Homo sapiens: one gene and its partners. The protein of the gene in region 1 interacts with the protein of each later gene in a pairwise test. Each region holds a gene or a part of one and is shown in the gene's direction. Other genes may lie near its edges.

Evidence for each region.
Region 2: the proteins of PGAP2 (region 1) and ARL13B interact in binary tests that used the Homo sapiens proteins (3 or more experiments, as listed by UniProt).
Region 3: the proteins of PGAP2 (region 1) and AMIGO1 interact in binary tests that used the Homo sapiens proteins (3 or more experiments, as listed by UniProt).
Region 4: the proteins of PGAP2 (region 1) and F11R interact in binary tests that used the Homo sapiens proteins (3 or more experiments, as listed by UniProt).

Annotation. Positions count from the first base shown.
Region 1 is NC_000011.10:3,811,560-3,818,782, forward strand, and holds part of PGAP2 (acyltransferase PGAP2), read left to right. Parts: intron 1-3,625; exon of another isoform or gene 3,626-4,527; coding exon of another isoform or gene 4,528-4,695; intron 4,696-5,745; coding exon of another isoform or gene 5,746-5,793; coding exon 5,794-5,976; intron 5,977-7,223.
Region 2 is NC_000003.12:93,976,101-93,983,218, forward strand, and holds the start of ARL13B (ADP-ribosylation factor-like protein 13B), read left to right. Parts: upstream 1-4,054; 5' UTR 4,055-4,323; coding exon 4,324-4,382; intron 4,383-7,118. UniProt on the Homo sapiens protein: Cilium-specific protein required to control the microtubule-based, ciliary axoneme structure. May act by maintaining the association between IFT subcomplexes A and B. Binds GTP but is not able to hydrolyze fit; the GTPase activity remains unclear.
Region 3 is NC_000001.11:109,506,655-109,513,816, reverse strand, and holds the start of AMIGO1 (amphoterin-induced protein 1 precursor), read left to right. Parts: upstream 1-4,089; 5' UTR 4,090-4,397; intron 4,398-4,817; 5' UTR 4,818-4,904; coding exon 4,905-6,386; 3' UTR 6,387-7,162. UniProt on the Homo sapiens protein: Promotes growth and fasciculation of neurites from cultured hippocampal neurons. May be involved in fasciculation as well as myelination of developing neural axons. May have a role in regeneration as well as neural plasticity in the adult nervous system.
Region 4 is NC_000001.11:161,017,995-161,026,149, reverse strand, and holds the start of F11R (junctional adhesion molecule A isoform 1 precursor), read left to right. Parts: upstream 1-4,997; 5' UTR 4,998-5,076; coding exon 5,077-5,140; intron 5,141-8,155. UniProt on the Homo sapiens protein: Seems to play a role in epithelial tight junction formation. Appears early in primordial forms of cell junctions and recruits PARD3.

The DNA of each region.
Region 1 (7,223 bases):
CAAATTGAAATCTCAAGGGTTAGTCTCCCTCTGCCTTCTGTGAGGTTCTGGAGGCTGGAGTCACTGAAGTGTAATATAGAGTCAGTAAATGAATTACAAGTATAACAGAGTTTGACACATGTCCCACCCCATTTACTTTGATATCCTAGAGAAAGTGGTCTTACATCTTTCTTCCTGGCCCCGCGCCCCATATCCCTGTCCAGAGGGCAGACCTAGAGCCAAATCCTTACTTCATAGAAGAGCAGATTCTGGAACCCCAGGGTTTCTGGGAAGTGGAGAGAGAACAGGATTGGGCTAGAGGGTATTTTGGGCCTCTTAATGTAGCACTATGGGCTTGTGCCTGTCTCTGTAGGAATGTGACTCAGTATATGTGTGTGTGATTGTGAGGGTCATGACTGTATATAATGGGTTTGAGTGGGTCGTGTGTGAGAGAGACTATATCTGTGCCTGTCTGTATGGAGATCTGATTATGTACGTGTGTATGTGTCCTGGGGTGAGTCCCGTGGCCTCTAAGATTCCATAGATGTCTGTGTACCCTCTGGACAGGGATATGGGGTGCGGGGCCAGGAAGAAAGATGTAAGACCACTTTCTCTAGGATATCAAAGTAAGTGGGGTGGGACATATGTCAAACTCTGTTATACTTGTAATTCATTTACTGACTCTATATTACCTGAGACAGAGACCCAGCCTCAGTTTCCTCATGTCTGAAATAGAATTGATTAGCTGGGCATGGGGGTATGCACCTGTAGTCCTAGCTCCTCAGGAGCCTGAGGTGGGAGGATTGCTTGAGCCTAGAAGTCTGAGGCTGGAGTGAGCTATGGTTTTCTCACTGTACTTCAGCCTGATGACATAGTGAGACCCCCATTTCTAAAAAATAAAATAGGGTTGATAATTCCTGTCCTGCTCCTTCCCAGGGCTAGTGTAGAGCTCTAGGTAGAAGAAGGATAGGAAGGTAGTTTAGGGAGGATGATGAAATGTGAGGAGCAGAAGGAGGAGGAGGAAGAGACTGTCAGGTTGGAAGGCAGGGCAGGAAATGAACTTAACCTAGGGGCTTTAGGTGGAGAAGAGGCAGATTCTGCGCATGGACCATTGGGGTCCCTCAGAGTTCTGAAGGCCCCAGCCAGCTGGATCCCCACTTCATGTAAAGAGCATCTGCTTCAGAGAAATGGCTAGGATTAGCAGTGGGGTCTAGCTGTGAGTATGGGGTGGAGCCCCACTTCTTTACTTCATGTGACTGGAGTTTCCTCTCCTCCTGATTTGTCAGTGGGTAGACATGGGTGTTGAGGTATGGACACCCAATCTGATGAGACCTGGGGCTGGGAGCTATTAGAAAGAACTGGACGAAAAGGGCGAACAGGCGATCTGAAGGGAAGGAGTACCCTTTTGTGACCTAGTACATGACCTAGTACCTATTATCTCAGATAATGCATCAGATATTCCTGTTACGCTAGCCACTCCTGATCATCCCGCAAAACCCTGCCCCGCTAGCTCTAAAATGTCTTCCCTATCCTCCTTGGGGCTAATGTAATCACTCCCTCCTCTGGGTGCCCACAGTTCCCTGTGTTATCTATCACATCATATTTGTGTCTGTCTTCCCAACCAGATGGGGATCTCCTTGAAGGCAGGCACTGCATTTGAGTGAGAAAGTATTTGGGTTTTTTTATTTGTTTTAGAGGCAGGGTCTCATTTCCGTCACCCAGGCCAGAGTGTAGTGGCATGATCATAGCTCACTGCAGCCTCAAACTCCTGGGATCAAGCAGTCTTCCTAACCTCAGACTCCTGAGTAGTTAGGACTACAGATGTGAGCCACTACACCCAGCTTAATTAAAAAAAAAATTGTGGAGATGGGGTCTCGCCATGTTGCCTAGGCTGGAGTGCAGTGGCATGATCATAGCTCACTGCAGCCTCAACCACCAGGGCACAAGTAATCCTCCTGCCTCAGCCTCCTGAGTAGCTAGGACAATAGGTATGCACAACCATGCCCAGCTAATTTTTGTGTATGTGTGTGGAGACGGGGTCTCACACTGTTGCCCAGGCTGGTCTTGAACTCCTGACCTCAAGTGATCCTCCCACCTCGACTCCCAAAGCACTGGGATTATAGGCGTGAGCCACTGTGCCTGGCCAGAAAGTGTTGGTTGAATAAATGATTAAGACTCCCTAGCCCAGTGCCCTGGGGAAAGGAAGGCATGGTATAAGTCAATCATAGTCCAAGCAAAATTATAATATTTGTATAGTATATGGAGTTAAACAGACTAGGCTGTTTGCTCTGCCCCTTATGGCTGACCCCAAGGGCTGATGGCATCAATACCCTATTAGCTAGGTTATTGCATACCTTGCATACCTATTACCTGTTCTGGGCATACCAGTTAGGGAATTAAGATATAGATAGTTGCTGGAGTACTTGGTCCCTCTGGAGCAGTACTAGGTCTGTGACCCTGAGGGTATGTTGTCCCCACTGCCTGAGCCTACGGTGTTGGTTCCACCTTGGAATTTTTATATTTGCTCTGAATTTCCCACTCAGAGTATCCCAGAAATGGCCAGCCCTAGGAATAAAAGAAGCAAGCTAGTCCATCATATCTGTAATTGATTACTTTGCCTCTGCTCGCATATCCCCAGTGATGGGGAGCTTCCTTCCTCCCCAGGTAGCCTGTTCTAAGGAAGCTTAATAACTAATAATTAGCCTTTTTCTTTTATTTTCTTTCTTTATTTTTATTTAGATGTAGTCTCACTCTGTCGCCTAGGCTGGAGTGCAGTGTTGTGATCTCAGCTCACTGCAACCTCCGCCTCTTGGGTTCAAGCAATTCTCCTGCCTCAGCCTCCTGAGTAGCTGGGATTACAGGTGCCCGCCACCACACCTGGCTAATTTTTGTATTTTTGGTATTGACGGGGTTTCGTCATGTTGGCCAGGCTCGTCTCGAACTCCTGACCTCAGGTGATCCACCTGCCTTGGCCTCCCAAAGTGCTAGGATTAAAGGCGTGAGCCACCATGCCCAGCCTCTTTTTTTTTTCTTTCTTCTTCTTTTTTTTCTTTTAACAGAGATAGTTTCTCACTATGTTGCCCAGGCTGGTCTTCAACTCCTGAGCTCAAGTGATCCTCCTGCCTCAGCCTTCCAGAGTGCTAGGATTACAGGCTTGAGCCACTGTGCCTAGCCCAAGCTTTTTCTTTCCTTCTTTCCTTCTTTCCTTCTTTTCTTTCTTTCTTTCTTTCTTTCTTTCTTTCTTTCTTTCTTTCTTTCTTTCTTTCTTTCTTTCTCTTTCTTTCTTTTTTTCTTTTTTTCCTTCTTTCTTTCCTTCTTTCTTTCTTTTCTTTCTTTTCTTCCTTTCCTTCCCTTTCCCTTTCCCTTGCCCTTTCCCTTTCCCTTTCCCTTTCCTTTCCTTTCTTTTCTTTTCTTTTTGAGGCAGGGTCTTGCTCTGTTGCCCAGGCTGGAGTGCAGTGGCACAATCTTGGCTCACTGCGACCTCTGCCTCCTGGGTTCAAGCCATTCTTATGCCTCAGCCTCCCGAGTAGCTGAGATTACAGGCATGCACCACCGTGCCTGGCTCATTTTTTGTATTTTTAGGAGAGATGGGGTTTCACTATGCTGGCCAGGCTGAAGCTTTTACTTATAGTGAGTATGTACTTACTTTCCGGTGAGTCTCTGCCTTGGCCCTGGCTCTGCTTTGCCGTAGAACTATTCTCTCCTCGTGGCTTCAGGTCAGCCCTGTAGAGACAAGAAGACAGTAATGAGGGGCCTTGAGTCTGTCTTCTTCTTTTTTTTTTTTTCTTGAGATGGAATCTCGCTTTGTCACCCAGGCTGGAGTGCAATGGCACGATCTCGGCTTACTGCAACCTCCGCCTCCCAGGTTCAAGCGATTCTCCTGTCTCAGCCTCCCGAGTAGCTGGGATTACAGGCACACCGCCACCATGACTGGCTAACTTTTTGTATTTTAGTAGTGACGGGGTTTCACTGTGTTACCCAGGCTGGTCTCGAACTCCTGACCTCAGGCAATCCAGTTCCTTCAGGCAACCTTCCAAGGAAATGGTTTCCAGGCTCTTCCCTATCCTGAATGTACCGTTGAACTTGGCCCAGTTTGTCACTGTTCTCTGCTGGGCCTTGATTTGGGTATAGAACTCCAGGTGGCCTGGGCAGTACAGGCAAAAGCAGGACTATTCATTCTTATTCCTGGCTGTTAGACCTCTGTTGAGGCAGCCTGAGCTGCTATTAGCTGTTTCTGCACAGGTACAGGCTGAACATCGATATCTCATATTCAGGCTTGTTGAGATCTCTTTTGTATCCTGCTTCTGTCATCATAGGATTTAGCCATTTCTCCAGTGAGGCCCAACAAGCCCTCTCAGTCCTGCTCTAACAAAAAACGGCCAGACCCCTTTTTGCTTTCTCTCTTTCCCTTATTGGAAACCTGCCTATGACCCTGGATACAACTCTCAGGAAGGTCCCTGCCCCCATCACTGGCAAAGAAGCTACTGCCAGCTGACCTCAGCCACTATCACTTCTTCCCTTTGCAGAGTGTTCTAGGATTTATGACATATGCTTGTTGATCCTGGGAAGGATGTGTGCCTGGGCAGGCGTGGAGAATTGGGTACTGTGGGCGGGAGGGCAGGCCCTGAGGAGCAGGGGGTGGGATCCTCCAGTCTTAGAATAGTCCCAGTCTGGCTACAACCTTCAACCCAAGACCCGGATTCTTCAGCACCGAGTGTGAGTGTTCCTTCATGAGGCCCCCACCCCATTCCTGGGTCTCCTTAGTGGAGGGAAGTATGAGTGCCGAGGGGAGATTGGGTCCTAGGCCTTTTAATATCAAGCCATCTCTGTCTGCCTCAGCTTGATCCAGAGGGAAGCCCAGCTTGAGGGGTCAAGGTGTTTGGGCAGTGGGGTTGTGAGGGGGAGTTGTCGGCCAGGAGGGAGAAGAGATTGGAAGAAGCTCAGTTCCCTGGGTCTGGGTCTGACCTGGACAGAGATCTCCTGGGTCTGGCCCAGGACAGCAGGCTCAAGCTCAGTGGAGAAGGTTTCCATGACCCTCAGATTCCCCCAAACCTTGGATTGGGTGACATTGCATCTCCTCAGAGAGGGAGGAGATGTAGGTCTGGGCTTCCACAGGGACCTGGTATTTTAGGATCAGGGTACCGCTGGCCTGAGGCTTGGATCATTCAGAGCCTGGGGGTGGAATGGCTGGCAGCCTGTGGCCCCATTGAAATAGGCTCTGGGGCACTCCCTCTGTTCCTAGTTGAACTTGGGTAAGGAACAGGAATGTGGTCAGACAGGGTCAGTGGGAGGGCTTTGGCCATTCTGAGCCAACGGTCCTTTGTTAGTTGGCCTGAAAGAAGCCATGACTTAGAACCTGAAGCTGTCAGGTGGCAAGAGGCCTTAGTCCTGGTGTTTGATCCTGGCATAGTTCTGGGCCTCAGTCTCCCCTTCTGTGAAATGGGAATAATAACCTTTCTACCTCTGACCCTTCTCCTGAGTGGCTATGAGGGTTGTGAGAGTGAGGTGGGCCACCAGAGCTCCCTGTCCAAGCCACCGGGAGCCTCTCTTCTGTAGGCTCTTCAAGAGGTGGACCTAGAGTATCACTGTGCCAGGGGGATTCCTAAGCTCTGACCCTGCCTGTCTCTGCTGCTCCTGCCCCATCTCCCTCTGATCCTTCTCCTCTGCACTGTCTTCCTTTTCCCCTTATGCCTTTTCTACCCTTTCTGCTCTGGCTTTTCCTTATACTCTGAGGAGCCATCTCTGGAAAAGGCCCCACTTTCCCAGACCCAGGTGTCCTACCAGGCCCCAAGTTGTATCCCTCGTGCTGCTTAGGCCACGCCCTGCAGGATGTTCTCTGCGGCCTCCCAGCCTTTGGACCCCGATGGGACCTTGTTCCGGCTTCGCTTCACAGCCATGGTCTGGTGGGCCATCACTTTTCCTGTGTTCGGCTTCTTCTTCTGCATCATCTGGTCCCTGGTGTTCCACTTTGAGTACACGGTGGCCACTGACTGTGGGGTGAGTGCCAGCTCCCCAGCCCCTGGGTCAGGGCCAGGTCAGGAGGTGGCAGTTAGGGTAGAATTAGATAGTGGAGAGGAAGTGGAGGATCAGAGAGAGGGAAAGGGACAAGGGGATGGGGGAAGGGTAGGTAAGTCAGAGTCAGAGATAATTCATGGGGGGAGACTCAGAGAGAATAGAATCACAGTCCTCCCTGAGTTGGAAGATGATGATAGAAATGCAAGGGAGATGACGGGCGCAGTGGCTCATACCTGTAATCTCAGCACCTCGGGAGGGCGAAGCCAGTGGATCACTCGAGTTCAGTTCGAGACCAGCCTGGGCAACATGGTGAAACCCCGTCTGTACAAAAAATGCAAAAAAATTAGCTGGGTGCCCTGGCATGCCCCTGTAGTCCCAGCTACTTGGGAGGCTAAGGCAGGAGAATTGCTTGAGGCTGGGAGGTGGACATTTCAGTGAGCTGAGTTCACACCATTATACTCCAGCCTGGGTGACAGGAGTAAAACCCTGTCTCAAAAACAAAACAAAATAAAAAAAAAAAAACAGCAGGCTGTGCACTGTGGCTCATGCCTGTAATCCCAGCACTTTGAGAGGCCGAGGTGGGAGGATCACCTGAGGTCAGGAGTTTGAGACCAGCCTGGCCAACATGGTAAAACCCTGTCTCTACTAAAAAATACAAAAAAATTAGCTGGGCATGGTGATGTGTGCCTGTAATCCCAGCTACTCAGGAGGCTTGAGGCAAGAGAATTGCTTGAACCCGGGAGGCAGAGGTTGCAGTGAGCCAAGATCGTGCCAAAAAAAAAAAAAAAAACAATAACAGTGCAAGGGAGTTGGGGGTTAGAGGGAGGTGATAGGGGAAGAGAAGGGATTGGAATGGGCAGGAGAGATCATGAGAGGAAGGAGGCAGATTGGAAAGGAAGCCAGGACTGAGGAGGTAAAATGAGGCCAGAAGATGGGAGATGTAACAAGTGGCTTTGGCCCAGACTCGGGGACTGACCTTGGAGGATCCATCCTCAGCTCTGATCTGGATCCTCAAGCTTTGTTTCTCCTACTGGCAGCCCCAGGCCCCACCACCTGTATCCACTCAGGGATCTGCCAGCCAGAAACCTGGATGGACTTCTGTCTCCCACAATCAGTCCACTAGGCCTTTCCTGGGGGCCCAGGGATAAAGGTTCTGTTGTGCTAGGGGCATGGAATTAGATATGGACTTGCCCTTAACATCTCAATGTTACAAGAATCAATCCTTAGAC
Region 2 (7,118 bases), on another chromosome or scaffold:
AGCACTTATGGCTACCAAACCACTTAAGATATTCAAAAACTAAGAGTCAGCTTTGCTAAGGGACTGCATGTTGGCACCAGGAATGCTCGGTAATGTTATCACTAGCAGAAATGGGGAAGGCATGAAGTAGAGCAGATGCTTTAATAGTATTGTTTCATTATGACATGGCTGAGAAAAATAAAATCAACTACTGGCCCAGGCCACTGTGTGTATGGAGTTTGCATGTTCTCCCCACGTCTGCATGGGTTTTCTCCAGGTACTCCATTTTCCTCCCACATCTGAAAGATGTGGATGTTAGGTGAATTGGTGTGTTTAAACTGTCCCAGTCTAAGTGAGTGTGGGCATGTATGAGAGCACCCTGTGATGGAATGGTGTCCTGTCAAGGGCTAGTTCTCACCTTTTACCCTGAGATGCCACCTATGATCCTGAACTGGAATAAGTGGACAAATAATTATCTTACTTGTTGTTATTCATCTTTCTTAATGTATAGCTCACATTTATTTCAATGTTTACTATTACTAGTGGTTCCATCTTTATTTTGAAGTTTGGTGATGTTTTTGTGACCAGAAATGTGCCACAGGAACTTAATTGATTTATATCAATTTGTCTGTGGTAAAATTGGTTTTATTGTATGTTATTTTGTTTAAAATTATAGTTTCTAAGAACCTCTGGATGAAGATAAATGAGGATTTACTGCAAAACTGGTGTTGAGTATATATTTGTGAAAAAACAGTCTTGAATATAGTTCTAAAAATGCTCAAGAAACATACACATCATGAGATCCTTCAGTCACAGAAATAATAATCAAATTCCATCAAGACAACATGTTTTAAAAAAGAAAAGCAGAGGGGTAAGGTCATATCTTAGAAGTTACATATAGAAATCCAGAGGAGGAATGGCCTGGGAGATCAGAAGAGAACCAGGGGTTGTGCTCACTTCATCAGCACATATACAACAATTGGAATGATACAGAGAAGATTAGCATGGCCCCTGAACAAGGATGACATGCAAATTCATGAAGCGGTCCATAATAAGTTAAAAAAACAAAGAAGAAGAGAACCAGGGTAGGGTAGTGCAGTGCATAACTGTGAAAGACCAAGGCAGGAAACAGTTTTAGAAAAGTTAACTATATTATATATATATTAAATAATAGAAAAGAAAACCGATTTGGTAATTAGGAAGATATAAGTTATATCAAAAAATATGCTTTCAGTAGTTAGATGGGACAGAAGCCCAATCATAGTAAATGGATCAAAGAGTGAATACAAACAATATAACTTTAGGGTTTGCAAGACACTAGTTTAAGAAAGTGAGTCATGAAAGTAGAGTCAGCAGAAACAGTCCTAAATTGGCTTGGAGTTAATGGAGCATTGCAGTCTTATCCTGCCCTGCTCTCCTGTCTCCCACCATGGATATTTGGAGGTAGGAGGACACATACCATAAGTGTTTATGGGACAGGTGACACCAACTTTAAAATTTGCTATCTATTATTTATCAGAAATTACACTTGAGCTTCATTTCTCTCATTTCATCACCTTAGCAACCTGGAAAAGTAGGTATTTTAATTTCCATGTTATAGATAGGGTTGTTGGAGCTTAGAAGAAAATATCCCAGAATAAAGGCCTCAGAAGCAAAGTTTCTGTCTCTAACCTTCTGTTCCTCGTCTCTTGCCCCTCATTCTCCCACTATGCAAGCCATAGAAACTATAATTCCTCTTTCTCCAGGTGCAGTTATAGAAACCACAACCCCCTTTCCCCAAAGCCAGCCACAAACCCCAAAATATTACTCTAACCTTCTTCCTTTCCATGAAAGACCTGCCCATAAATAAATTCTTTGACTTGCATTGTTTGATAGTACGTCTTAAGACTCCCATTCTAGAAAGGGTCCTACCCCATACCCTGGAAGAAGGAATGCTGAACAATCAGGTCAAGAGGAATCTGAACAGACAGGCCTTGCTGAGTTTCTCCACACAGTCTGCTCTCATTAGGTCATATCCTTTTTGACCAATGAGAGTTCTTCAGGGTTTTTCATTCTTCATCGAACCCAAGTATAAAAATGGGTAGTCTTCCCTGCATCTTTGCATCTCCATTTGCAAGGTTCCCATGTCACATAAAACTTGGATTAAATAAATTTGTTATGCTTTTCTCTTGCTATTCTTTTTGTTATATGAGTGTTGGCTGTGACTGTTATGATGAGAAGAAAAGGTATCACCCCCTTTGTTCCCCATAAGGCACAGTATTTTGGAGATAGCAAGCTGTATGAGATGTATATAAATTTGAATTAAAATTACATGAGGCTGGGTGCCATGGCTCATGTCTATAATCCCAGCACTTTTGGGAGGCCGAGGCAGGCGGATCATTTGAGGCCAGGAGTTTGAGACCAGCCTGGGCAACATGATGAAACCCTGTCTCTACAAAAAATACAAAAATCAGCTGGGCGTGATGGTGCACGTCTCTAGTCCCAGCTACTTGGGAGACTGAGGAAGGAGGATCACTTGACCCCAGGAAGCGGAGGTTGCAGTGAATCGAGATCATGCCACTGTACTCCAACCTGGGTGATAGAGGGAGACTCTGTCTCAAACAAAACAAAACAAAACCAAAAAAAGTTACATGATTTAGTAAAGGACAGAGACTAATTTAAAACCTATATGTATCTTAGTCTCAAATCATTATATTCCCCGCGAATACACTGGGATTCTCAGTGCCTTCTATCCTTTCATCAGGATTTGAAAATATTTATTTAAGTAGAAAATGAATGGACACACAGATCCCTACATATTGTGCATAATTTTTTCCCTACAGGAATGTCCTTGTCATTTCTTTTTCTCCAAAGTATATAAAAGAAATGCAAATATTACATACCTCTTTAAAAAATAAACTATTACAAAACAGTCAAGAGATAACAATCTTCATCTTGCAGATACCAAATAGCCAGCAATTTATGTACCTAAAAATCCTGAAACAAACATACATCAAAATGGTTATTTATTTATTTTTGAGACGGAGTCTTGCTCTGTTGCCCAGACTGGAGTGCAGTGGCGCGATCTCGGCTCACTGCAACCTCCGCCTCCCGGGTTCAAGCAATTCCCCTGCCTCAGTCTCCAGCGTAGCTGGGACTACAGGCGCGTGCCACCACACCCGTTTTTGTTTTTTTTTGTTTTTTTTTTTTTGTATTTTTACTAGAGACGGGGTTTCACCATGTTAGCCAGGATGGTCTAGATCACCTGGCCTCGTGATCCGCCCGCCTCGGCCTCACAAAGTGCTGGGATTACAGGCGTGAGCCACCGCGCCCGGCCCCAAATGGTTATCTTTGAGAGCTCCTGTGAGATCTCATTTTCTTCATCTTGTTTCTTTTTAGTATTTTTCACATTTTCTACAAGAAATGCATTTTTCTTTTGTAATCACAATCCCCCCTACAACAAATATCATACAATTCCGTTTCACATATGTAACAGTAATAAACGTTTTAGAGATTAAGGCTTCACTCTCATCTGAACTACTGAGAAAATTTAGCAAGCGAATTTCCCCCTTGTCTTTAACTTACAAGAATTGCCCCAGTGTATTGTTCCTGTAGTCATGCTGCCTAAGTCGGCCAGAATTCTAGAGGGTCCCCATCCCTGAGCAAAAAACAAACAAACAAAAAACAAGAAAAAAGAAAGAAAGAAAAAGAAAAACCCATGCACAAGACCTGAGATCTCTGAATCTCAGTTGGGGACACTGGAGAAAGGAAAGGAACAGCACCGTGGATTGGCAACACATTTTATGTAGGTATAAAGATAGGCCTTGCTGGAGATTTGTCCCGGATCCTCCAGCTTATCTCCGGACGCTCCGGTTGCCTAGTTACGAGAACGAGCTACCTCGAGCTCCGCCTCCTTCTTATAGAGTACTCCCCTTTCTCTTTTCCTAGTCTCGCGCAGGGGCGGGTAGCCAGGACTCTTCAGCCACTCAGAGGCCTCTACCTCAGGACCTCAACCGATGATTGGGCGAGCGCAGTACGGGCGTTGCCTGGGGAACGCCTTCCGCGCCTCGAAGTAACGTCAGCACGTCGACGCGGGGCTTTTCTTTAGCCGGGTCCCGCTAACTCGGCTACGGTGTATCTGCGTCTTTGGTCAGGTTGTTCCTTGGCTAAGAGGGCAGTCGTCGCGGACCCACGCGGTTAGCAAGGCTTAGTGCTCGGGCCGGCCGCCTTCACTTCCCTCCCGGCTTTTCCTCCCGACTTATCCACTTTAGGGGCGTCTCGGAGTGCCGGAGGCCCCCGGGGAAGAGCGGGGTGCCGGTGTCCGCTCCGGGCTCGGATGGGAAGTGGTGGGAGGAGCGACCCGGGATGTTCAGTCTGATGGCCAGTTGCTGCGGCTGGTTCAAGCGGTGGCGGGAGCCTGTCAGGTAGGCTGGAGCCAGCTGTCCTGGCCGTCCTAGGGGTTGGAGATGGCTGCGCCCCAGGGGCGAGGCGCCGCCTTTTCCCCGCGCCTGGACGAGTCTATCCCAGGCCGCAAGGGATGCTTTCATTCCCAGGGTGTCCCGGGAGGGAGAGATTGGAGGATGTAGCCTTGTTGTCTGGTCGACTTTCTGTTGCGATTGACAATGCTTACCGTTGTTATATTTTAAATAGGTTTGAATTTGTTAAAAAGTGTGTGTGTGTGTGTGTGTGTGTGTGTGTGTGTGGAATTGAAAACTATCCATTGTGTGTTTTTCCTCTGAAGCTTTTGTAATGGAAATTCTTTTAAAAAGAGGGGGACATGGAATATAGTTTTCATAATATCCGCACATTCCATTCCAAGTCACACCTCCACACAGTTGTATTTGAGGACGTGGGCTTGAAATCTGGCTCCACTACTTAATAATTACATGACTCAACCATTTTGGCCCCACCTTTCTTAAATATTAAATGAGAGTGATAATACTCTGCTTTAGAAATATTGTATTCAATGAGAACAAGTGATAGTGTTTTCTTAACTGTAATGTAGCTTCCAATTTTTATACGGTCTCTAGTAAAACCTTTTAATTGAAAGGGTCCACTTTTTAACATTTCATTTTGAAATGCTGGAAGTATTAATAATTAGTACCTGTTACTTGATATTCATTCATTCAAAAAATATTTATTAAGACAATACCTTGTGCCAGGCACTGTCTTAGGAAATAATCAGTGAAATTGATGCTTTTGAAACTGAGGCCTAACCTATAAAGAGATCTTGTGTTTGTTACACAAATAATGTTGACTTCACATAGTTCTAGTCTGGAATTGGGCCAAGGGTAAGATAAAGCAAAGTTGTTTTTTTTTTTAAATTGTTAACATTTTAAGTATATTTGCCATGAGAATGAACTATCCTTTAAAGAATGAATCTGAAAAGCTACACTTACACATTATAACAGAAAATACATGTCTAGATTGGAAAAAAAGTAACTTTAAATGAAACTAGAGATTCTTCCCCATTATTAGCTCCTAACTGAATTTGAATGTTTTAAATATAAGTAGTAAGATCAACTCTGTAAGTCAAAGATGGGCTGGGTGTGGTGGCTCACGCCTGTAATCCCAGCACTTTGGGAGGCCGAAGCTGGCCGATCTTTGGAGCCCTGGAGTTCGAGACCAGCCTGGTCAATATGGCGAAACCCCGTTTCTACAATAAAATAAACGGGCACGGTGACGCACGCCTGTAGTCCAAGCTACTTCGGAGGCTGAATCAGTAGGATCACTTGAGCCTGGGAGGCGGAGGTTGCAGTGAGCCGATATCGCTGCACTCCCTGAGTGACACAGTGCAACCCTGTCTCAAAAAAAAAAAAAAAAAAAAAAAAGAAAAAAGTCAAAGAGTTGTTTTAGGTGCATAGATTCTGATTTATTTGCTTTAATTATATTCTGGTCTAATTTCACAGTATCTACTAAGACTTGAGGGTCATTCATAATAGTTGACCCCTCATTTTCCTCCGTGTCTGCTTTTAAGAAATGTATTTGGTTTCTGTGAAGGCATGTATATAACTTACGTTCTTTTAACGAGAAACAGTGAAAACGTGTAATTCGAAGAAGGAGTGTTCAATTTAATTCATCATTCTTAGTCTTTCCTTTTCTTAGCAGCTTTTGTATATATACTCTCTGGAATGATTTGTTTAAAGAGAAGAGTTCAGAGAAAGGAGAATGTATTGATTTCCAAGTAGAACAGATAATTGAATTTTCTTAATAAAGCATTATTAAAATTTAGCTGCATAACCCAGAGTGTATTTTCTTCTTTAATAAGCACCATCTAGATTTGTCCTGTCCAGTAGGGTAACAACGAGCTACACGTGGCTGTTGAGCACTTGAAATGTGGCTAGTCTGAATTAAGATGCTGTAAGTGTATGTTTAATACATAGTGGGCTTTGAAAAAAGATTTATTATGCAAAAAAGTCAGCATCTTATCAGTCTTTTAAAAGTATGATTACATGTTGAAATGATAACTTTTGCATATGCTAGGTTAAATAATATATTAGAATTAACTTTTTTTTACTTTTTAAAAAATGAGATTACTAGAGAATTTCAATGTATATGTTGCTTATGTTAACATTTCTGTTGGATCTTACTGCTCTGGATCATAGCCTAATATAAAGGACATAGGTAAACATCTCAATTTGGATAACTGTCAAAGAATTTGAACACAAGTTGGATTACCCCTGTCTTCTAAGTCCCCTTGTTCAATGCCTGATTTATAATAGTGGCTGAATAAATATTTGCCAAATATTGTATGTAGTTCGATTTTTCTTAGTAATAATCATCCTGAAGTAAATAACATTAGCAAGTAGTTCCATTTATTTTACTGGAATAAATGAGAGGTGAGCAAGCTAATTTTAAAAACAAAATTTTGTGCTTTTATGGTGTTCTCTATTTTTTCAACAGAAATTGCCTGTTTGATTATTATGTATATATTTGTTTTCTGTAGAATTTCTTATTAAGATTCCTCTTCATGTTTATATTTTATGAAGATGAAATGTGAGGAGTGAATTTGTAAAAGAGATGATGATGGTTATTAATATACTATATTTGAGATTACTTTGCAGATTTGTTTAATACATTCTGTACCCCAGTACCCATTGTATTTGTTCACCTCTCCTCACTTAGATCCTTTCCTAGTGAGCATATTATTCCAGACATTG
Region 3 (7,162 bases), on another chromosome or scaffold:
TCAAGCCATCTTCCCACTTCAGCCTCCCAAGTAGCTGGGACTACAGAAGCATGCCACCATGCCTGGTTAATTTTTGTATTTTAAGTAGAGACAGGGTTTCTCCATGTTGCCCAGGCTGGTCTTGAACTCCTGAGCTTAAATGATCCACCTGCCTTGACCTGCTAAAGTGCTGGGATCACAGGCATAAGCCACTGCTACCAGCCTTCTCCACTCTGATTCTGATGGCTAGTATTAGCTATTAAGAAAGCAAAAAATACTTGTAGTGTGGAGAAAAGGAATTCATCCAGTCTCATAAACTGGGAGACACATCCAGCTGCTTTTGCTCAAGTGCTGAGCTAACCAAACAACCTCTCAAATTGCATTTAGGAATATTGAGTTGGTCCATTCCAGCAAATGGAAATACATACTCACTAAATAACCTGTTGCTATTTATCTTGCCCAGATCTTCTTTTGTTGTGAATTAATAGTTGTTCCGGTCTAAAGAGCACCTGTGGGAAAGTTATTATGAGTCAATTATCTAAACCAGTGCCATCATGAAACTTTCTGTGACAATGCGTTGTTCAACAGGGTAGCTGGCCACATATGGCCATAAACATTTGAAATGTGGCTAAGGAAACTGAAGAAGTGATTTATATTTAATTTTAATTAATTTAAGTAGCCACAAATGCTGCTGGCTACCAATTAGGCAGCACAACTCTAGATCCTTGCTACTTAAAATGTGGTCTCAAAGAAGCATTGGCATCATCTTGTTAGTTTGCTGGAAAAGCAGAATCTCAGGCCACACCCCAGTCCTGGTGATTCAGAATCTCCATGATTATAAGATACCCCGCTGATTTGTCTGCACATTAACATTTTAAAAGGATATGGTTAGTTTATATTTTTATTTATTTATTTATTCTGAGACAGAGTCTCTGTCACCCAGGCTGGAGCACAGTGGCATGATCTCAGCTCACGGCAACTTCCACCTCCCAGGTTCAAGTGATTCTCATGCCTCAGCTACCCGAGTAGCTGGGATTACAGGCATGTACCACCACGCCCAGCTAATTTTTGTATTTTTAGTAGAGATGGAGTTTTGCCATGTTGGCCAGGCTGGTCTCGAACTCCTGCTTCATGTGATTTGCCTGCCTCAGCCTCCCAAAGGGCTGGAATTACAGGGGTGAGCCACCGCACCCAGCCAAAATGATTACTTTTAAAAGGATATGGATTAGCTGAAAAAAGAGACTGATTAAAGAACATATCGTGTGGTGACCCTTCCAAATTGTAGACACCCACTCTTGAAACTGGTATCCATCATAAGGGGCCTTTTTCTTTCTATCTGTCTCTCTCCCACGCCTTGGACACAGCAGAAAGAGGAAAGGGAGGCCGGGCATGGTGGCTTACACCTGTAATTCCAGCACTTTGGGAGGCCGAGGCAGGCAGATTACCTGAGGTCAGGAGTTCGAGACCAGCCTGGCCAACATGGTGAAACCCTGTCATTACTAAAAATATAAAAATTAGCTGGGCATGGTAGCAGGCATCCGTAATCCCAGCTACTTGGGAGGCTGAGGCAGGAGAACCACTTGAACCCAGGAGGCGGAGGTTGCAGTGAGCCAAGATCATGCCACGGCACTGCAGCCTGGGTGACAACAGCGAAACTCTGTCTAAAAAATAAAAATAAAGAGGAAAGGGAGAGGAGAGAGCCTGGAACAACACTGGGGTGAAAAGAAAATATGCAACATGCAGATGAGGGGTGGGGTGAGAGGAGCATATGTTTCTCAGGAATATTTGTACAAAATAAAATGATGACATTTCTTTAATAATTATTGAAATGGGTGATGGGTATATGGGAGTTCATTGTACTATTCACTTTTGTGTATGTTTGAAAATTCTCAAAATTAAAAAATAGATGTAACTTCAGAGATGATGTGTGTGATAGCCAGCCTCCAAGATGGTCCCAATGATCCTCTCTTCCTGGTATTTGTGCCCTTGTGTAGTTCTTCCATATTGAATCAGGAATTGCATATGTGACCAAAGTGGAGGTGATATCCATCACTTCAAAGAGCCAGATCACTGTGACTTCTGTCTTGCTGTCTCTTGCATCTCTTGCTCTGAGGGAAGTCAGCTACCGTGTTGTGAGGAAACTCAAGCTGTCTTGTGGAGAGACCTTTATGGATAAGAATAGAGGTTTCCTGCCAACAGCCAGCCACATGAATTTAAGTGAGCCTCTATGGCCCCAGTGAAGCCTTCTAATGACTGTAGCTCCATCTAACGCATAACTGCATGAGAAACTGCCAAGCCAGAACTGTCCACCAGACTGCTCTTGAATCTGACCAACAGACACTGTGAAAGGCAATAAATGTATATTGCTGTAGGAAGTCACTAAGTTTTGGGGTAATGTGATTATGCAGCAATAGATAACTGATGCAATGTGATTTCAAGATTCTTCACACCTTGTCCTCCAAAAAGATTACCCTCCTCATCTTTTCAATGATGCCTGAAATGAACAGAACAGAACATCTTTCTCTTTTTTCTTTCTTTCTTTCTTTCTTTCTTTCTTTCTTTCTTTCTTTCTTTCTTTCTTTTTTTTTTTTTTTTTTGAGACAGGATCTTGCTCTGTCACCCAGGCTGGAATGCAGTGACACAAACATGGCTCACTGCAGCCTTGACCTCCAGGGCTCAAGTGATCCTCCGACCTCAGCCTCTCAAGTAGTGGGCACCACAGGTGCGTGCCACCATGCCTTTTTTTTTTTTAAGAGACAGAGTCTCACCATGTTGCCCAGGCTGCTCTCGAACTCCTGGGTTCAAGCAATCCTCCTGCCGCAGCCTCCCAAAGTGCTGGGATTACAGGTGTGAGCCACTGCACCTTGCAGAAAGACCTTTTCACACTATGCATAAGATTAACACGCTAATACTCCTTGAAGAGATAATATATTCACTAAAATTCATGGTAAAACATGTGACAGATATAAATTCTTTTTAAAACTCTTAGCAAGCTAATCTACTGAGACATTAATTTCAGTCTTGATCTTGCTGTTATAAGAGACTGGAACAAATAAAAAGGTAATTTCTTATGGTCCACCATCTCAAGAACAGCTAACATCTTGAATGATAAGGTCTAGGCTCTTCCTGCATCTCTCTCTTTCCTCACCCCCAAACCCAAACAACATACACTAGTAACAGCTTCTTGTTGTTTCAGGGGCCACCCTAAAGAAGAAACCCCTCCACCTCCACCACTGGCCTTCATCTTGAGGATTAGGTAACAGAGAAACTATGTTGCAATTGCTCCATAAGGGGAGTGGGGAGCTGGCACTGGTTTAGGAAGAAGGCAAGTGGCCAGACCTAAGGGCTGAATGACTTCCTCCGGGCTGGGAAGGGTTTCGGAGTTTCCAGGAATGGAAATTGTCCCTGGCTTGTATGCAGTCCGTGTGTGTGTGTGTGTGTGTGTGTGTGTGTGTGTGTGTGTGTGTAGCAGGTGGAGTGGGGAGAGGTGCATGAGGTGTCTGTAAAGGGGTGTTCTGGGGCCTGGGCTCACCAAACACCCCCTTTCCCCTCACTCCTGCGCAGCTGGCTTGCAGGCTAAGGAGCTGTGCCCTTCAGTGGTACCTCAAGGGTCATGAACTAGTAGCATCAAGACGGGGGTGGGGTGGGGGGAACCCCTCCCCCAATTTTTGAGACCCCACAGCCACAGAGAGAAGGGAGGGGGAACCTCAGAATGTGACTAATGAATTTCCCGCCAACATTGGCAGGCGGGAGCTGAGCCAGATTTCTTCAATTTGCGAAATTAAAAGACATGTGACGCCTCTTGCCCGAGTAGGTGCAGCGAATTCACTTTAGTTAGACTTTTCCTGAGAGCCGGTCTGTGTAGCGAGAAGGGTGCTGGGAGATGGGGGAATGGGGGATGGAGGAAGTTATAGCGGAGCCTAAGGGGCCAGTGCCGCTCTTCCTGCCAATTTTCGTCTTTAGCTCAGCGTCCGGAGCTCGCTGGTTGAGGGAACGACCCCGCGCGCGTCCGCCCGGCCGGCTCCGACACAAACACACGCACGTGCGCCCCGCCCCCGCCGCGCGCACGCGCCCCGAGGCTCCGGCGGCGGCGACGGGCGCGCGCGCGGTGCTCGCTGCCCCCACGCCGCTCCCTCCGCTGGGATCGCTGCGCCTCCGGCTCCCCGCACCGATCCGCGCCAGGCCTGCGGACCTGGAGGCAGCGACCGCGGTCGGTGGGCTCCGGCGGGCTCAGCGGTCGAGGCGGTGGCAGGGTGAGCGGAGCGGGGCCCCGCAAGTCCCCGGGAGGCGACGGTGCCGGGCGCGGGCCCCTGCGTAAGGTGGGCGCAGTGACAGGCCGGCCGGTGAGGCGCCGCCGGGAGAGGCCGCGACGGAGCTCCCAGACCGGCCATGGGCTGAGACACGTCCTCGCCGAGCAGGTGCAGTGACCGGAGGCCCCGGGGGGAGCCCGCCCCTACAGGCCCCGGGGACCCTCAACCCCGACCGGACGCGTCCTACCCAGCCCGGTGCCCTGTTGACCTTCCCTCAGCTCCTCCCAAAAGGCACACCGACCCCACCTCCAAACCCTGCCCGTGCCATCCCTGTGACTCCCAGCAGTCCCTGCCATCCTGTGCATACCTGCAGCCTGCACCCCTGTGACCCCAGCCCAGTAGGCCCTCGGGCCACCTCCTCTTCGGCCGATATTTACAGCCCACTGCCTGCACAGTGCCTGGAAACTACCCAGCATCTCTCTCTCCTAGCCCAAAGGGGGTGGAGGTAAGGGTGGGAGGGGAAGTGGGAGAGGGTGTCCTTCCCTCTGGAGTCCTTGGTGACCACAAACCCATCCTCTTTCTCTCAAGTGACCCTTCCGTACCCCACCAGAACATGCCCGGGTGACCTCCTCCCAGATCTTCCTTGTGGCCTTCCTCGCCCACTCCAGTGACACTATGCACCCCCACCGTGACCCGAGAGGCCTCTGGCTCCTGCTGCCGTCCTTGTCCCTGCTGCTTTTTGAGGTGGCCAGAGCTGGCCGAGCCGTGGTTAGCTGTCCTGCCGCCTGCTTGTGCGCCAGCAACATCCTCAGCTGCTCCAAGCAGCAGCTGCCCAATGTGCCCCATTCCTTGCCCAGTTACACAGCACTACTGGACCTCAGTCACAACAACCTGAGCCGCCTGCGGGCCGAGTGGACCCCCACGCGCCTGACCCAACTGCACTCCCTGCTGCTGAGCCACAACCACCTGAACTTCATCTCCTCTGAGGCCTTTTCCCCGGTACCCAACCTGCGCTACCTGGACCTCTCCTCCAACCAGCTGCGTACACTGGATGAGTTCCTGTTCAGTGACCTGCAAGTACTGGAGGTGCTGCTGCTCTACAATAACCACATCATGGCGGTGGACCGGTGCGCCTTCGATGACATGGCCCAGCTGCAGAAACTCTACTTGAGCCAGAACCAGATCTCTCGCTTCCCTCTGGAACTGGTCAAGGAAGGAGCCAAGCTACCCAAACTAACGCTCCTGGATCTCTCTTCTAACAAGCTGAAGAACTTGCCATTGCCTGACCTGCAGAAGCTGCCGGCCTGGATCAAGAATGGGCTGTACCTACATAACAACCCCCTGAACTGCGACTGTGAGCTCTACCAGCTGTTTTCACACTGGCAGTATCGGCAGCTGAGCTCCGTGATGGACTTTCAAGAGGATCTGTACTGCATGAACTCCAAGAAGCTGCACAATGTCTTCAACCTGAGTTTCCTCAACTGTGGCGAGTACAAGGAGCGTGCCTGGGAGGCCCACCTGGGTGACACCTTGATCATCAAGTGTGACACCAAGCAGCAAGGGATGACCAAGGTGTGGGTGACACCAAGTAATGAACGGGTGCTAGATGAGGTGACCAATGGCACAGTGAGTGTGTCTAAGGATGGCAGTCTTCTTTTCCAGCAGGTGCAGGTCGAGGACGGTGGTGTGTATACCTGCTATGCCATGGGAGAGACTTTCAATGAGACACTGTCTGTGGAATTGAAAGTGCACAATTTCACCTTGCACGGACACCATGACACCCTCAACACAGCCTATACCACCCTAGTGGGCTGTATCCTTAGTGTGGTCCTGGTCCTCATATACCTATACCTCACCCCTTGCCGCTGCTGGTGCCGGGGTGTAGAGAAGCCTTCCAGCCATCAAGGAGACAGCCTCAGCTCTTCCATGCTTAGTACCACACCCAACCATGATCCTATGGCTGGTGGGGACAAAGATGATGGTTTTGACCGGCGGGTGGCTTTCCTGGAACCTGCTGGACCTGGGCAGGGTCAAAACGGCAAGCTCAAGCCAGGCAACACCCTGCCAGTGCCTGAGGCCACAGGCAAGGGCCAACGGAGGATGTCGGATCCAGAATCAGTCAGCTCGGTCTTCTCTGATACGCCCATTGTGGTGTGAGCAGGATGGGTTGGTGGGGAGATTCTGCCCCAGGAGAGGTAATGCACCCCTGAAGGATATGAGGGGATGGAAGAGAGGGCTGGCTGCCCAAGGGAATGGATTCCTCCTGACCTCAAGGGAATTGGTCCCAGGTACAACAGAGAGCAAGACCCCAAACAGGGCGTGGCTGCCACGATTTTCAAATGGGGGTATATTAATCCTCAGGCAAATGCTACACCCGTACCCAAAGCCCTGCCAATTCTCAGTGTGGTAGAGGAAGAGAAGCATGTCTGAGTTGGATGGGAATGAGGAAGGAGTGAGGGGAAGAACAGATTCCCTAAACTTTCATGAGGTCATCCCTAGCTCCTTAAGAGAAAAACATTTAGAAAAAAAAATTTTTTCTATCTCTGCCCACCCACACCTGTGATGTTGTGTGTGTTGGGGGAGCTTCCACAGGAGCCACACTGGGGAAAAGCTGTAGTATCTTCTTTGTTTAGCAAGTCAAACTTCACAGCTGGGGAAGTTGAAAACCTTTGGAAAATGAGTCAGGAAAAGGCTGAGACCTCAATCGGTAACAATTCCCCAAAGCTGTTGTAAGACTTTGCATTAAAGCCTTCCTTTTTCCTGATGTGCCCTGGGTGGATGGATCTTTGCAGGAGCCTGGCCTGCTGCCTTTTAGTTACAACAGCAATGTGGGATGTGGTATCTGTGCCTTGTCCTGGGACCAATGGCACAGAGGGTTATAGCATGAACTGAAGGGTCCATGTCACAGCATAGGTGCCAGCACGAAACTTGTA
Region 4 (8,155 bases), on another chromosome or scaffold:
AGCCACCACGCCCAGCTTCTAACACCCTTCTCTAGTGTGTATCCTTTTTTTATGAGACAGAGTGTCACTCTGTAACCCAGGCTGGAGTGTAGTGGTGCTATCTCTGCTTACTGTAACCTCTGTCTCCTGGGTTCAAGTGATTCTTGTGCCTCAGCCTCCCGAGTAGCTGAGATTACAGGCGTGAGCTACCACGCCCAGCTAATTTTTATATTTTTAGTAGAGACAGGGTTTTGCCTTGTTGGTCAGGCCGGTCTTGAATTCAAGTGATCCGCCTGGCCTGGCCTCCCAAAATGCTGGGATTATAGGTGTGAGCCACTGAGCCCAGTCACTAGTGTGTACCTTTTCAGTCTCCACTTCTCCCTACTCTCTAGATTTCCTAAACTTCCTTTTTCCTCTGCACTCTAAGCTAATGAGTTTACCTCTGAAGAAATCAAAGAAATTGCCATTATCTTCTCACCAACAAATCTACAAGCTGTACCACATGCTTCTCTCGTTGTGGTGGCTAGTTTTCTCTGCTTTCTTTTAACCCTCAACTTGAGCTCAGGATGCCATCTCTTCTCTCCTCTATTACTTGATACCATAACTGTTCTTCCCCCACCCCCTTTTTGAGAGAAGGTCTTGCTTTGTCACCCAGGCTGGAATGCAGTGGCATGAGCATGGCTCACTGCAGCCTCCACCTCCCAGGCTCAAAGGATCCTCCCACCTCAACCTCTGGAGTAGCTGGAACCACAGGCACTGCCATGCCCGGCTAATTTTTTAATTTTTTTTTATTTTTTATTTTTTGTCTCTCTCTGTTCCCCAGGCCGGTCTGGAACTCCTGGGCTCAAGCAATACTCCTGCCTTGGCCTCCCAAAGTGCTGGGATTGTAGGCATGAGCCACTGTGCCTGGCCTCTCTTTTCCACACGATTAATTTCTTGCTCTTTACTGGATCATTGCTATTAGCACACAAGTATTTCCATCTAAACAAAATACCTACTCTGCGTTTATTCAACATCCCTTACAGCTGTTGCTCCTTTTCTCTGCTGGCCTTCTCTGCAGAATTTCAATTGAACTGTCTATAGTCACAGTCTATTTTTTTGTGTGTGCGTGGGGCTGTTGAATAATTCCTTCCATAATTTTCTACTTTACAGACAAACTAATCAGTCTGTAGTTTACAAATCTGTTTTGAAGGACTATGGAAAACAAATGTCAATGACAATGAAATTTTAACATTTATTATACATTTAAGCAACTTTATGGGAAAAAGAATCTGATGAACATCAAATTACTTGCATGCTCTAAAATACCTTCATGCTTTGTAACTGTATATGCAGATGTTTTATATAGTAATAACTGAGGTGCACACTGTTTGTATTTACTTTTTTCATTTTAGTTATTAACAATATTTCATGTATACTTGTCCATTATTAATATTTTCAAAACAGAAAATATAAAATTGAATAGAGATCAATGCAAAATGTACTTTGGTTAAGAAAGAAATGCGGCTGGGCGCAGTGGCTTACACCTGTAATCCCAACACTTTGGGAGGCCGAGTTGGGCGGATCACCTGAGGTCGGGAGTTCGAGACCAGCCTGACCAACATGGAAAAACCCCGCGTACTAAAAATACAAAATTAGCCAGGCGTGGTGGCCTATAATCCCAGCTACTTGGGAGGCTGAGGCAAGAGAATCGGTTGAACCTGGGAGGCGGAGGTTGCAGTGAGCCAAGATCGCGCCATTGCACTCCAGCCTGGGCAACAAGAGCAATACTCCATCTGAAAAAAAAAATGCATAAGTATAGGATGTGGGAGACCCAATTTAACAGTAGTTCAAGTGAAAATAAAGGGCTTACCCATTTTAGTATGCTGTAAATTGAATATAACTCAATAGTGTAACATGGCTATTATTATATTTGTGAATGCATGCTTTTTAAATTTATTTTTATTTATTTTTATATTTTTAAGAGGCAGGATCTTTCTTGTTCCTTTGCCCAGGCAGGAGTGCAGTGGTGCAATCATAGCTTACTGCAGGTTCGAATTCCTGGGCACAAGTGATTCTCTTGTCTCAGCCTCCGGAGTACAGGATTACAGGTTACACCACCATACCCAGCTAATTTTTTATTAAAAAAAATTTTAAATTTAATTTTCTGGCGGGGCATGGTGGTTCACGCCTATAATCCCAGCACTTTGGAAGGCTGAGGTGGGAGGATCACTTGAGCTCAGGAGTTCAAGACTAGCCTGGGCTACATAGCAAGACATCGTGTATACAGAACAAAACAACAAAAACAAAGAAAAGAGAGAGAGAGAGGAAGGAAGGAAGAAAGGAAGGAAGGAAAAGAAAGAAAGAAAGAAAAAATTAGCAGGATGTGGCAACGCCTGTGGTCCCATCTACTCAGGAGACTGAGGTGGGAGGATTGCTTGAGCCCAGGAGGTGGAGGTTGCAGTGAGCCATGATTGCACCACTGCACTCTAGCCTGGGCAACAGAGCAAGACCCTGTTTCAAAAATAAAATAAATAAATAAAGGCCGGGCACGGTGGCTCATGCCTGTAACCCCAGCACTTTGGGAGGCCGAGGTGGGCGGATCACCTGAGGTCGGGAGTTTGAGACCAGCCTGACCAATATGGAGAAACCCCGTCTCTACTAAAAATACAAAATTAGCAGGCGTGGTGGCACATGCCTGTAATCCCAGCTACTAGGGAGGCTGAGGCAGGAGAATCGCTTGAACTCGGGAGGCGGAGGTTGCGGTGAGCCGAGATCGCGCCATTGCACTCCAGCCTGGGCAACAAGAGTGAAACTCCGTCTCAAAAAACAAATAAATAAATAAAAATAAAAATAAATAAATAGGCTGGGCGCGGTGGCTCACGCCTGTAATCCCAGCACTTTGGGAGGCCGAGGCGGGCGGATCACAAGGTCAGGAGATTGAGACCATCCTGGCTAACACGGTGAAATCCCGTCTTACTAAAAATACAAAAAAAAATTAGCCAGGCATGGTGGCGGGCGCCTGTAGTCCCAGCTACTCCGGAGGCTGAGGCAGGAGAATGGCGTGAACCCGGGAGGCGGAGCTTGCAGTGAGCAGAGATCGCGCCACTGCACTACAGCCTGGGCGACAGAGCAAGACTCCGTCTCAAAAATAAATAAATAAATAAAATTTCTTAGACACAGAGTCTTTTCCCTATGTTGCCCTGGTTGGTTTCAAACTCCTGGCCTTAAGTGATCCTCCCCTCCTGCCTCAGCCTCCTGAGTAGCTGGGATTACAGGCACACGTCACAGAGCCCAGCTGTCAGTGTATATACCTTTCTCCAAGACTTTAAATTTCTTTCTTTTCTTTTCTTTTTTTTTTGAGACGGAGTTTCGCTCTTGATGCCCAGCAGGCTGGAGTGCAATGGCGCGATTTCAGCTCACTGCAACCTCCTCCTCCCAGGTACAAGCGATTTTCCTGTCTCAGCCTCCCAAGTAGCTCAGATTACAGGCATGTGCCACCACGCCCGGCTAATTTTTTTTGTATTTAGTAGAGACAGGGTTTCACCACGTTAGTCAGACTGACCTCAGGTGATCCACCCACCTCGGCCTCCCAAAGTGCTGGGATTATAGGCGTGTGCCACGCACCCGGCCAAGACTATTAAGCACCCAGTAGGTGGTTTAAATTGAATGGAACCAGAAGCAGAACTTTGGCCAAAGAGATGGGGACAAAGGAATGAGAGCAAAGGTGAAAAAGGCAAAATGTCAAACAATATCATTCTTTTGGATAAAAATGTGGTCTTTTCCCTTGCAATGAGGTAATGCTAAGGAAGTTTTTTCCCCACAGTCTGCATATGCTTAGTACAGTTAAAATTAAATCATCGTAAAATAGAAACTACAACTAGCAAAGGTGTTGAGCATGAATTTCAATTAAAAATGATGTAGCAATATAAATATTAACAGAAAGTTTGAGTATCAACATTGTCTATAGAAAAAAGGTGGCTTAGTCAGCACACAACTATTAGTCACAGTGAGAAAACAAACAATTCTGAAATGTAGGGACCTGTTCACAGATCAAATATGTGTAAAGGACATATCCAGTCACCCAGAGATGTTTCTAGAGCATGTTCAGCTCAGTTTGTATCATCTGGGTGTGTTTTGTGTACATCTGTTTAACTTTCTTCTTGAGATAACGTAATTCTGCTCTTCCCAAGTTGTGTTGTTGTGGGTTTTTAAATTTTTGTTGTTGTTGTTTGTTTTTTGAGACAGGGTCTGGCTCTGTCGCCCAGGCTGTAGTTCAGTGGCGCGATCTAGGCTCACTGCAACCTCCGCCTCCGGGCTCAAGCCATCCTCCCACCTCAGCCTCCCAAGTAGCTGGGACTATACTGCCCAGGCTCCCATTTTCCAGTTGAGTGCTCCCTTTCCCTTTTTTTTCCCCTTTCTTCCTCCCAGCGTAGCTCATCTCTCAAAGCCGGTGGGGTGGACAGAGGAACAGTTTGGAGGTGGTGCCAAAGTAACATTCCATTTCTCTCCGGGTCTTCTCCCCTACCCTCCCATATTAATATTTGTTTTTTACTTGCCAAGAGGCAGGACCAAAGTTTCTGCAGGACCAAACTGCAGGTGCAGTTGCACCAAGCAACTTACATTCAAACAAACACAAAACCCCAAGCCAAGCCGGTCTCCGTAAATCCCACACCACGACTGCCTTTCCTACTTCCTCCTTAGAGGTACTTCTCAGCCCTCTAGCTCCAACTGAGAACCCAGCCAGTCAGGAAGTCGCTACTTCGGGAACACCAACCAATCAGGGGGCCGTCACCTGCTGAAGGTGCGGAATTCGTCTCCTGACGCGACAGTCTCCTGGGCCAATCTGAGGCAGCTCCTGTGGGGAAAGGCGCCAGTGCGCCGAGGCGGGGAGTGGCGGCGGGGTAACACCTGGCCGAGGTGACTCGTTCTGAAGAGCAGCGGTTCCTTACACCAATCGGAACGTGCAGGGGTGGGGAGCTGGCCAATCAGGCGCGGAGGGCGGGGCCGGGCGGGGTTCCACCTGGCGGCTGGCTCTCAGTCCCCTCGCTGTAGTCGCGGAGCTGTGTCTGTTCCCAGGAGTCCTTCGGCGGCTGTTGTGTCGGGAGCCTGATCGCGATGGGGACAAAGGCGCAAGTCGAGAGGAAACTGTTGTGCCTCTTCATATTGGCGATCCTGTTGTGTAAGTTCCCAGAGTTTCGGGAGGAATCGGTTGGTCGGGTCAGAGGTTGGAGGAAGGCTCTCCCCACGCCCCTAGCCCGCGGGAGGGGAGGAGCTCAGAAACCTTCCTATATCGTTCTGCGAATTATCTTTTCCACCCCTGGCTGGTCCCTCTTTCACCACTCTCACAGCTGGGTGAGTGGCTGGCTCCCCTCCCCCACACTGGTGAGTTGTGACCGCACCCCTCACGGCCACCAGGAGGGAGCTGACCCATCTGCACACACCAGAGGTACACTCCTCGTCCTCACTGGAGAGGGCCGTCGGGCCAAGGACCCTTCCACACTCATCTACCCAGCGCGCGCTCCACACGCACCTGGGAAGGGCCAGCCTGCCCCTCCAACGGCCACCCAGCATCCACGAACCCCGCTGCGCAGCCGGGAGCCTTGGCTCCTTTAACGGTCTTCGAAGAAAATCAAATGGAGGTGGTCTGGGGTGGAAGTCTCTTCCCCTAGCTTTTGCTGAAGGAGTCTCTGGCTCTTCTGAATCTTTGAATTGCGGCGGTTGCTCTGGGAAAATGTCTGGGTGCACAGTCTAAAGAGGAAATGCAATAGAAACCTGAAATTTCTCTAAGCGCAGCAGAGGTTCCAGCGAAGTTCCTTTATGGAATAACTACCTCAGGAGTCCTTAATACGTGTTGTTGATTGAGTGACTCTTCCCAGGGGGAGAGTGTATCTGTTGGTTGGCTGGATTCTCATCAGAGCCAGAGCTCTGCCCTCCCTCTGGCTGTGTATGAGAGTTTTTGTTTCCTTTGTAAACTCCCTTTCCTGAGGAACAATGAGGCTCACTTGCTAGGGCATGCCTCTGTCTCTAGATGTGTTTGTGTGGGGCTGAGCGTTTAGTCGGTTGGTTTGTGCGTTAGTCAACCTGTGGCAGTACCTGTGTGTTTATCTGATTCTTGAGTGTGCGTGTCGTTGTGTGAGTAGTTGTGTCAGTATGTGTTCTACATGAGTCTCCCCCCACCCCCAAGGTTCTTGTTTTAGAAAGTGTTAAATGAATGATTACAATCAGTTTGGTGTATGTAGATTCCCTGCCCTTAGATGGATTGACTGCTCATTTCTACCTTATCACAACATAAACCCTTGGGAGAGATTGGACCAGAGGCATATATCATCCTCTTTCTATTTTACTGATAAGGAAACAAGTCCAAAAGGGGAAATGACTTCAATGACAATAGAGTTAGGGGTGGAACCTGGGAATGGAACCAAACCCTCTTGACTTGCTTTTCCTTTTTCCATTCTTTGATCCAGCATCTCAGGCACCCTATAGCACAAGAACTGTTTGGGATACTGCTTCAGAATCTACTGTCTTACTTACCTTTAAACTTACTTTCCCACTAGCTTCTTCATTCATGTCTCCCTCTTTTTTTTTTTTTTTTTTTGAGTTAGAGTTTCGCTTGTTGCCCAGGCTCGAGTGCAATGGTGCCATCTTGGCCCACCGCAACCTCCGCCTTCCGGGTTTAAGCGATTCTCCTGCCTCAGCCTCCCGAGTAGCTGGAATTACAGGCATGCACCATCACGCCCGGCTAATTTTTTGTTTTTAGTAGAGATGGGGTTTCACCATGTTGGTCGGGCTGGTCTTGAATTCCTGCTCTCAGGTGATCCACCCGCCTCGGCCTCCCAACGTGCTGGGATTACAGGTGTGAGCCACCGCGGCTGGCCATGTCTTCCTTTTTTTCTACTCTTTGAGTTCCCTTTTCTTTAATTTCCCTTTTTTCCCTACCCCTTGCCTATTTTACTTCTGCCTGTATTTTAGAACTGCTAGTGACACCCATAGTCAATTTTTGGTTATGTGGTTCTGGTACTAAAGGTTTTTCCAACCTTTGTACTGTGCCAGTATTTTTCCCCTAAGCCCAGAAGTTTCTTCTGTGTGAGTGACTGTATTTGTAACAGTGTTTGTCTGTGACAGTATTTGTCAGGCTTAAAAGCTTCCTGGAGCTGCTTACTCCCTATCCTTTGCCACTGCTTCCTTTCTTTTTTCTCCCTCTAATTTCCTATATTATTTATGATAATCCTAAAATAATCATATACTGGCACTGGAAGGTCATGATAACACCATTTTGAGCTTGGAGGTGTCTTCAGGGAACCAAGCCACAGTAGTGCAGAGGGAACCTGAGATGATGTCGCATTAGCCTGTTAGGACAGTGGGTCCTGGGAAGTGACTTGTCCAGGGGATGGAGGAACTGACCTTGTAACTTTTAAATCAGGCTAGATCTGGGGTTGGGTTGGGGGAGGGGAGTGATTTGGTTAGTGCAAATGAGGATGGAAATGGGAGCTGGGCCACCATACCTGCATTCTAGCTTGGCTTTCTCTCTGCCTTGTTTGTGATCTTAGGCAGTAGCTCAGTCTTTTCATCTGTAAAATAGCAGTAATACTTGTCCCACCTTTGTCAGGAGGATCAACCAGCATAATAGTTACATTACATATACATGAAGGGATTATTTTTGGGCAGCTGTTATCCCCTGTGGATTTTGTGAGGATGGAAGAATGCCAGAATGCTGTCCCTAGCTGAGTAGGTAAAAAAGGAAGCAGGGAGATCCCAAATGGCTAGAGTCAGAAATCAAAAAGCAGGAGCTTTTTCTTGGGTGTCTAGCTTGTCCACTGTCCCTGAGAGGCGTGGATAGGTTGCCCATATGTTCTCCCTGTTCTTCATTGTGGGCTCTGCTGTCAGGGAGGAAGTAGAAAAGGCAAGATAGGACTGACAAGTCAGGCAAAGGCCTGGCCCCAGCTTGGGGAACCTAATGGAGGGGAAACCCTGACCCTGTGGGGCAGAGATCCAGAGGGTAGACACTGGGAGAGCTGGACTTGGGAAAAGTAAAACTGATGACCCAGAGTACTAGCCTCCCTTTCCCTAGGGAACCTGTCCCTTAGAAAAGGTTCAGCTGTCTACCAGGTAGGGAGAGACACAGTAGAGGTGAGTGTGGATAGGTCAACTTACAGTGTAACCACAGGGGAGAGAGGGAAACCTGGGTTGGAATGCT